3 linked regions of the Homo sapiens genome follow. The protein of the gene in region 2 purifies or fractionates together with the protein of the main gene of each other region. This does not show direct contact. Each region holds a gene or a part of one and is shown on either strand. Other genes may lie near its edges. The genes, in order: MAGEB3, MYH7B and TRPC4AP.

Region 1 (2,326 bases), on a different chromosome or scaffold from region 2:
GTTTCTCACGTGCATGGAGCGTACTCTTCTGACCCCGAGGCATGATGGCTGTAGTCAGGAACAGCAGGCAGGAGTGTCAGCAGAAGGGCAGGTGATACAGGCACCTGGAGGAGAGAGAGAAAGAGAGGGTATGAGTGCCTTCAGCAGAGAGGTACCACTTTGGATTTAAAAGAAGGTCGCCTCTGCAGTTTTCTGTGAGAGCACTGCTCTGGAAACCCAGAGGGCTTCTGTTCTGATCAGTTTGTCCTCTGAGAACCCTGTGAAAGTAATTAAAGTGTGCCTTAGGCCACAGCCTGCCAGCCCTGTTCTGTGTATACTGGGACTGAGAGCAGCCGTGGCATGTCTAGTCCTTGTGGATCTCCTTTTACTCTGGGGTAGGAGGTTTCTCTCAGTTCACACTCAGGACCATCATAAAAACTGTCAGGGCTGGGTCTTCTCCCCTGTGCTGCACTAAATTTGACACCTCCAGCAAATGTCCTCATCTCCTTGGGACCACCTAAGAGGAGGTGAAGGAATGTCTCAGCCTTACCACCCCTGACAGGAGGAACTGGGTGCTAACAGCATTGTGGAGTCCTACTCTTTCCTGGGCTTATTGGAGTCCTGACACCTCATTCATAGTCCTCATCTTGTCTCTAGATAGGACCTAGGACAGCTGCCTCTGCTGCTCTGATGCCCCTCACTTTAGATAAAGGCTCTCAGCAACCTAATGCCATTAAAAGAAGGTGAGTTCACATACACCTGACCTCCATGCCCAGCCTCATCAGCGCTGCAAGTGGGGAGTGGGGGAATCTTTGTTGTCTCTTCTTTATGTGGGAGGAGTTGTATCACTAGTCTTCATTCAGGGTCCTCACTGTGACCCCTGTAAGGCTCTGGGTCTCCTCACTCTTCCCTCTGCAGAACTGGGGCATGTAATTAGTTCAACCTTTCTGGCACTCTCTAGGCAGTAAGGGGGGCTGACGTTATTCCAAGGCTTCCTGGAGCTGAGAGAAGAGGCACAATTTGTGGGACTCTACTTTTTAGAGAGAGTGTTCCCTTTAGTTTTCTCTCAGGTCTCTGACCTTGACTCTTAGTAGGATGTGGGACACTTCCCTCCATTAACCTAAGTCCTCCAGCCTCAGAACAAGACCCTAGACAGGGAAGTCAGGGACCCCTCACCTATGAATACCTTTGCCTGGAGGTTGCAAAATGAGTGCAAGGACATTGTTTGTGTTGACACCTCTATTGCAGAGAGATTGCTTCATTAGCACTCAGGGCCCTCACCTTGACTCCAGTTAGGACCCAAGTCTCTCTTCCACCTGCTGAACTGGGGCTACTTTCTTAGACCAAGGCCCTTCCCTCCCTGAGACTTTCCAGGTAGATATCTGTCAGACAGCTTTCAAGGTATTCCCAGGGAAGACTTCCGGGGCAGGATTTAGTGTGGCCCTCTTTGTTACAGGTTGGGGGATGGTGGTCCCTTTCATGCACATTCAGGGTCCTGACCTTGACTCCAGACAGTCCAAGGAATTCACCCTCTGCCGAAGAGATCCCGTGCCCCTCGCCTCCAGATCCTCCCCTTCAAAGCACTTCCAAGGAAGTGAGGAAGAGCCTTATCTGTTCACAGCTTCCTGGGGTCTGATGGCTGACAACACGGGTGGAACTCTATGAGACTTCACTGTTTTGGAGTTGCTGGTCCCTAGATTCTCATTCAGGGTCTTCACCTTGGTATCTTATCACAGCCTGAAATTTCTCCCTCTACTGACCTGAGTTCGCCAACCTCCAAACAAAACCCTCATCTCCCTGAACACTTCCCTCCCTGGATGGGGAAGTCAGGGCCTCCGCTTATGACTACACTTGTCTGGAGCCTTCTAAACTGGCTAGCAGCAGTGAGACCTTGTCTGAAAAAAAATAAAAATAAATAAAAAAGACAAGGACCACTGGTGCTAACCAGGAGGATGCTAACCAGTAGGGCTGCTGCTGCTTTCTGTTGACGCCCCTACTGGGAACAGATCCCATCCTTTAGCACTCGGAGACTTCACCTTGGCTCCAGTTAGGGTCCAGGTCCCCGCCAACTGAATAACTGGGGCTGCTCCCTTAGTGAAAGACCCTCCCTCTGGGTGCCTTTCCAGACAGAACTCAACCAGGACCTCCCAGGGTCAACCACAAGGGTGAGACGTGTGGGTCCCCTTTTGTAAGGGGCAGGGAGTTGTGAGGGTGAGACACGTCCCGCTCTGGGTCTCCGAGGGCTGACAGCAGGGGGTGACACGCTGGGACCCCACTGTTCTGGAGTCAGTGGTCCCTAGGTCCTTATTCAGGGTTCTCACCTTGTTACTAAGCGGAGCAGAGTAAC
Region 2 (3,657 bases):
CCACCAGAGCTCATACGTCGGTGGCGATGAGCTCCTCCCCATCATTCATGTTGTCCACGGTGATGACGCCCTGGCTGCAGAAGTGGTAGTCATAGGGGTTCATAGACAGAAGCAGCATGTCTGGGGACACAGGGCAGAGAAGGGAGGGTCAGGCAGTGCTTACCGGCTATTCTCCCCACAACAATTGCAGCATAGGGGGTCCTGCGGGGGCAAGCCCAGCAGGAGTCTAGGGCCCTCCCAGAGGACCTCATCTCCCAGTCTGGGGCCTAAGTTTCTCATCCTCACTCCTGCCAAGGCTGAGGGCACTGAGAGTGAAGGGCCCTGACCTGGCCTTCACTTTGACCCTGGCTTCTTTTTCTGGTTCTCTGAGGAATGAGCCACAGTCCTCACGTCTCACTCATCTTTTGACTGTTGCTCATGGCCCCCTCTGGCCCAGATCCCATGCTAGATGCTGGCGCACAGGGAAGACCAGACTCTGCCCTCAACGGGCTTGCCAGAGAGGAGAGCTGGGCCTAGACAGTCATCAGTCCGCCTTGGTGCTGGGTGGGACCTCTCTAGTCTCAGGACAGCAAGTGGGGTTTAGGGCTTAGGCTCCTGGAGGCAGCGATAACACGTTGGCAGGTTGCTGGAGCTAAGAGGACTGTTCCCTAGCAGGAAAGTAACCAAAAGTCCCAAGAAGGAAGAGAGGCCACAGACCCCAGGACAGGGAGGGAAAGACCACCAGGGCCTGGCCTGATGGGGGCCAGGAAGCGCCAGGCAGCCCCTCCAGGTTCTGACTCCCACCCCCTTCATCGTACTGCCCCTCACCCTGCAGCTCTGGCTTCCTCCCTGAGAGGATCTGGTAGTAGACATGGTAGCTGCGCTCACCAGGCAACTGGAAGATCACCCGCGACTTCTCCAGGAGATCTGGGGAGAAGGGACGCTGGCCTGCCATCTCCCACACCTCCCCAGAGTGGACATCCCAAGGGGGCGATGCGGAGGGAGAGAGGTGGGCAGGGAGTGTGCAGGGGGGCTGCATCTGCACCTGCCAGCTTGTGTGGGGAGGGTATCTCCCCTGTGCCTGCGTCATCACACGAGCCGTGTGTCTGTACCTGTGTGTCTGTGTCTCTGGCCAGATGGGTCAGTGTGTGTCCTTGCGTGTGTGTGGGGTGAGTGTGGTGTCTGCGTGTGCAGGTTTTTATCTGTTGGTGTGTCAGCGTGTGTGCGTGTGTGGCCGAGCCTCCGTGTGTGTCTGTGTGTGTCTGTGTAGGGGTCAGGGTGTGAATTACAGCCTATCCCTGTCCCCGTCACTGCCTGCCTGCGCTCATCCGTCAAGACCTAGCCATGCAGCCCAATGTGGGGAGTGGCCAACGTGGGGGCCCCTCTGTGTCCCTGGCCCCCTTGAGTGTGGCCTAGGCGCCTGGGGTCTATGCAGCTGGTGGTACTGGGGCACTTCCCAGCGGGGTGCCTGGAAGGATGGGGCACTCTACGTGTAGCTGTGCAGCTGGGGCAGGAGGGCCGTGGGCCAGGCCTGCCCTCTTGGTGGCCAGAGAGAAGACTGGGGACACGCTAGGGGTGCAGTCACAGGAGCCTGACTGGCCAAATGAGGATTTGGGTCTCCATCCTCAGGTGACAGGATCTAGAGAAAGCTTTCAAGCAGGAACAGGATATGACCAGCAAAACTATGGCCGCGTAGAGGAGAGGAAGCTGGAGACCAGGCAGAGGCTGGGGTGATGTTCTGGTGATAGGTGAGGTGGCCTGAGCTGGGCAGCAGCCAGGGGGTAGAGAGAAGTGCCCAGAGCAGGCAGGAGCCCAGAAGTCGTGATGACAGAGGCCGAGTTGGGGTGACCGGGCTCAGGCCTCCTTCCCCTGCACCGCCCGCAGGGGGTTGACTCACAGCTGTCAATATCCGCGGATGCCAGCTTCCCAGAGGGACCAAAGTGAATGCGGATGAACTTGCCCTGTGGGCAGAGGGGCAGCCCTCAGCCAAGGGGCACAGCCAGCACTGTCCCCACCTGTGCCCGACCTGCCGCTGGTGGCCTACGGCATCCCCGCCACCCCTCCCACCTCAGCCACTCACAAAGCGGGAGGAGTTATCATTCCTCAGGGTCTTGGCGTTGCCAAAGGCCTCCATGGCAGGGTTGGCCTCGATGATTTGATCCTCAAGGGTGCCCTGGGGCGGTGGGGGTGAGGGGGTCTGTCAGTTCTGGTGCCTACCCACCGGGAGGCCAGAGCCACCCGTGGCCCCTCTGTTGTGCAGAGGAAGGGGGTACCCCCAGGGCTGCCCCATTGACATTGGCCCCATACTCACCCCCGTCTTTGTTGCCAGAAATTGCTGGGGGAAGAAGACAGACAACATTAGAGGGCCAGGCCTCCGGTGGGGAAGGGCGGGGTGGGGCAGGGTATCAGCGGGAGGCAGCGGGCAGCAGGACAGGGGGGTGGAGTTAGTCACCGGAATGCATGGCCCCCACCCTCAGCCCCTCGGCCTGACCCTCCTGCAGCTGTTAGGAGGCAAAATGCTGGAAAGTGGGAGTGGCACAGCCCCAGCCAGAGTCTCCACCTGCAGCCTCCTCTGCCCCAGCCCGGCCTCTGGCCTCCCTTCATTTTCTAGTCTCCATGCAGTGGCCCTGCTCCAAGCCCCAGGGGCCTCCCGACTAAAATCTAGGGCCCTCCAGAGCCCAGCCCAAGTGCCCCCTCCTCTAGGAAGGCCTCCTGGCTGCTCCAAAGCTGGAATAGACCTCTTCCTGGTCTGAACCTTCCTGCCCTAACCTCCCACTATGACCTTACACACCTCTCCTTTGTAATGCAACTGGGTGTGTCTTCATTGTTTGTCTGCCTGTATACCTACCAGTGCGCACAAAGGCCCTGCCAGGTGCCCATTATTAGCCCTAATTTGCAAATGAGGAGACTTAGCTCTGGGCAGGGAGTGGATCTGCTCAAGGCCACACAGCAAGTCAGGAGCGGCAGGGCAGGTGCCCAGCATCCTGCCGCCTGGACGCCACAGCGGTCCTGTGTGTCACCCAGGGGGACTAAGTGAATTGAGCAGATCCTCCTTCTCCCCATCCTAGCCTCATCCTCACTTTCCCTTCCTTTTCCTTTCCTTCTCTTCCCTACTCCGGATGCTGGGAGCCAAGGAAGAAAGGGAGAGAAGGGAAGGAATGGATTCTGGAGGGAACAGATATACCACCACGGACTTTGTGGTCATTCATTCACCTCCAGGGAGCCCAAGAGTTAAAATACCCACAGGGACATTGGGCAGGGGAGGTGGAACCCCCCAATACACTCCCATCCAGTGCTTTTGTGCAGGGCTCTCTCTAGCCCGTTTGGCCAAATTTGGGGCCAAGGTAAGGGGAGCTGATCAATCTTTTAAGTTCCTGCAGCCATGGCTCCTGCGGGCAGCCTCTCCCACCCCTCCCTTGCCCGACCCTCTCCCCTGGGCTCCACTGTCCCAGCTCCTTTCTGCCCAGGTGCTCCTCTGCCCTTCCAGCTGTGTCCCTGCCAGCTCTGGCCTCTCCCTGACATCTCTTCCTGTCACTTGACCCACCCAACTTTCTGTTACGTCCCCAGAGACCTTTTTAGGGATTTGGAAGACAGGGCAGGAAAGGGAAGGAGGAAAAAGGACCAAAAAGTCAACAGCAAAAACAAAACAAAACAAAACTGAAATGAAAATCAAAAATC
Region 3 (3,657 bases), 99 kb from region 2:
TTTGATAACATAAAGGAGAATAATGATATGAATACCTCAATTGATACAGAAAAAGCATTTGATAAAATTTAACATCCATTCATGATAAACTCAAATAAAAAAATGAATTTCTAGTAACAGGTATCCACAGAAAACCCACTGCAAACATCATACTTAATGGCAAAATGTTTAAGGTTTTTTCCCTCTTAGATCAGGAACATGCTACTTCTATTCATCATACTGGAGGTCTCAGGCAGCAGAGTAAGGCAAGATATATAGAAGACATAAGATTGGTAAGGGTAAGATAAAAGATTCATTTGCAGATGATATAATATTCACAGATGACTGTACAGTATACAATCCAAAAGAACCTAAATGTAAATTATCAACTATTACAGCAATATACATGAATAATATAAAAATCTATCTTATTTTTATATTACAGCTACAATTTTTAAATGCAGTTTTAAAAACACTACTTACAATACCACTTTTAAAAACGCTAAGGAATAAATCTAACAAAGTTATGCAAGACGGCTACATAGAAAACTGTAACACACTCTTGGCTGGGCACAGTGGTTCACACTTGTAATCCCAGCACTTTGGGAGGCTAAGGTGGGCAGATCACCTGAGATCAAGAGTTTGAGTCTAGCCTGACCAACATGGTGAAACCCCATCTCTACTAAAAATACCAAAAAAAAAAAAATTAGCTGGGCGTGATGGTGGGCGCCTGTAATCCCAGCTACTAGGGGAGGCTGAGGCAGGAGAATCGCTTGAACCTGGGAGGCGGAGGTTGCAGAAAGCTGAGATGGTGCCACTGCACTACAATCTGGGAGACAGAGCGAGACTCCATCTCAAAAAAAAAAAAAATTACAGGAAAATAACTTCCAATTTATACTTCTATACCCAGTCAAACTAAATATATGTGTCAGAATAAGACATTTTCTGATCTGCAAGCTTTAAAAAAAAAAAAAAAGTTACCTCCCATGTACTCTTTCTTGGGAGGCTACCAGAGAGTGTGCCCCAGGAAAAAGGAAGACAATTGAGGAAACAAGGTCTAAAACATGAGAAAAGAAAGAAAAATGCTCTGGATTTGGTGAAGAGAAGTCCCAAGAACTCAGCTGTATAGCAGACCTAGTAAGCAGCTAAACTAAACTGCTAAACTGCTAAACTGCAGTAGGGGAATGAAGGGCTTCAAATGATTTCTTTAAAAAAAAAAAAAAGTTTTAGAATTTAGGAACAAATTATAAGTATACAGAAAGCAGGCCGGGCGCGGTGGCTCACACCTGTAATCCCAGCACTTTGGGAGGCCGAGGTGGGTGGATTACCTGAGGTCAGGAGTTCGAGACCAGCCTGGCCAACATAGTGAAACCCCATCTCTACTAAAAATACAAAAAAATTAGCCAGACTTGGTGGCGGGCACCTGTAATCCCAGCTACTCGGGGGGCATAGGTTGCAGGGAGCCGAGATTGCGCCATTCCACTCCAGCCGGGCAACAGTGCGAGACTCCGTCCCAAAAAAAAAAAAGGTATACACAAGGCAAAACAATTTAAAAGGATGCATTATACCTGACTTCACCACCATGCGATACACCAATGTAGCAAAATTTCACTTGTACCCCATTAATACAAATTTAAAAACAGTAAAATAAATTAAAGGATGCACTATTATGCTAATGAAAGTCAAAAGGGTATATGTATATATGTGTGTATATATGTATATATGTGTATATATGTATATATCTATATATGTATATACGTATATATGTGTATATATGTATATATGTATATGTATATATGTTTATATGCATATATGTGTATATGTATATATGTTTATATGCATATATGTGTATATGTATATATGTTTATATGCATATATGTGTATATGTATGTATGTTTATATGCATATATGTGTATATGTATATATGTTTATATGCATATATGTGTATATGTATATATGTTTATATGCATATATGTGTATATGTATATATGTTTATATGCATATATATGTATATGTATATATATACAGGGTATATGTATATTTATCCTTCAATTTAAAAAATGGAAGAGGACTGTTTTTAACACTACAAAAAAATTATATAAAACAAATATAATTGTACAATATATGGCCCTGCTGTAAATAATAATGCTAACATCATAATGTAAATACTTAACAACAGCCAAAGCTGTGATATAACTACATTGGTAGACTAGTGGAGACGAGTAAGAAGGAATCGAATGTGTGAATTAAATCCTAGTCTTTCAAGAGCGAAGAAAATAGATAGTATCTAAAAGTGAAAAGAAACAGCTTTATAACCATGTTATTTAGAAATACTGGCTCTCCTGTTTCCTGGATCCTTCTCTTGCAAAAGAAATAGCTAAGTATGGACACTGAACAGCATTAGGAGTATGGAACTTAGAGGTGCAAAGCAGGCAGGGCACTGCTGTTTTTTTGTTACAAGCTCCATGATACGCAGAGATCTAATCACAGTCCAAATATTTGACTTCACAAGCAATTTCTTTACTATTTATACATTGTCTTACAAGGCATGTACTCTCATTTAAAAATAATAATTTGGGGCTGGGCACAGCGGCTTACACTCATATCCTAGCACTTGGGAGGCCAAGGTAGGCCCATTGCTTGATCCCAGGAGTTTAAGACCAGCCTGGGCAACATGGCAGAACCTTATCTCTACAAAAAAATACAAAAATGAGCTGCGTATGGTGGCATGCGCCTATAGTCCCAGATACTCGGGAGGCTGAGGTGGGAGGATTGCTTGAGCCCAGGAGGCGGAGGTTTCAGTAGTTTTTTTTCACCACTACACTCCAGCCTGGGCAACAGAGCAAGACCCTGTCTAAAAAAAAAAAAAAAAATCATTAGAATTTTGTTTTCCTTGTGAACAGCTCAGCACTGTGACAAAAGTGCCACCATTCAGTCATCTTCCCAGTTGAATTACTGGCAGGTATCACATGGGTTTTCTCTTGAAGTACTTGTGGTTTAACAGTTTACAGCAGTGATAATCTCTTACATCATACCCTCTAAACTGTCAACCTGTTTAGCAAATATGACATTTCTAGACATTTACAGTTTCCACTGATTTTATTGTTTTTAAAAATAACTAAAGGCTAAATTCCATGAAGATAACTGTGCATCTTATTTGTTTCTTTAATCCTAAATGTAAGACATCTAATGCCTCAAAATACCACACTAAATGCAAGGGTCTCGCGCAATCTCACTGCAACCTCCGTCTCCTGGGCTCAAGTGATCCTCCCACCTCAGCCCTGCCCCCTTCCCCCTCCCAGCCCCCCACACCACCACCACTGCCACCAAGTAGCTGGGATTACAGGCACGCACCACCACGCCCGGATAATTTTTTGTATTTTTAGTAAAGATGGAGTTTCACCCATCTTGCCCAGGTTGGTCTTGAACTCCTGAGCTTAAAGAATCCGTCTAGCTCGGCCTCCCAAAGTGCTAGAATTACAGGTGTGAGCCACCGCACCCAGCCTAAATAGATATCTTAAAGGATAATAAAGATAAAATACCTTGTTGGGTTATTCTGACAATACATGTTAACCACTGAATACTTTTGTGTCCTTTAATGGGGTATGATTCAGTAAAATTAGGAGCAAATTTAAGGGCTTGTGAATACGAAAACTTCCCATTGAAATGAATGGCATA

What was found.
Region 1: the proteins of MYH7B (region 2) and MAGEB3 purify together in Homo sapiens (co-immunoprecipitation; one large-scale study listed by IntAct). This does not show direct contact.
Region 3: the proteins of MYH7B (region 2) and TRPC4AP purify together in Homo sapiens (affinity purification with mass spectrometry, with the first as the bait; one large-scale study listed by BioGRID). This does not show direct contact.

Annotation. Positions count from the first base shown.
Region 1 is NC_000023.11:30,233,642-30,235,967, reverse strand, and holds part of MAGEB3 (melanoma-associated antigen B3), read right to left. Parts: intron 105-2,326; 5' UTR 44-104; coding exon 1-43.
Region 2 is NC_000020.11:34,983,349-34,987,005, reverse strand, and holds part of MYH7B (myosin-7B), read right to left. Parts: exon of another isoform or gene 2,471-3,657; intron 2,315-2,470; coding exon 2,291-2,314; intron 2,153-2,290; coding exon 2,060-2,152; intron 1,941-2,059; coding exon 1,877-1,940; intron 907-1,876; coding exon 808-906; intron 121-807; coding exon 17-120; intron 1-16.
Region 3 is NC_000020.11:35,082,775-35,086,431, forward strand, and holds part of TRPC4AP (short transient receptor potential channel 4-associated protein), read right to left. Parts: intron 1-3,657. UniProt on the Homo sapiens protein: Substrate-recognition component of a DCX (DDB1-CUL4-X-box) E3 ubiquitin-protein ligase complex required for cell cycle control.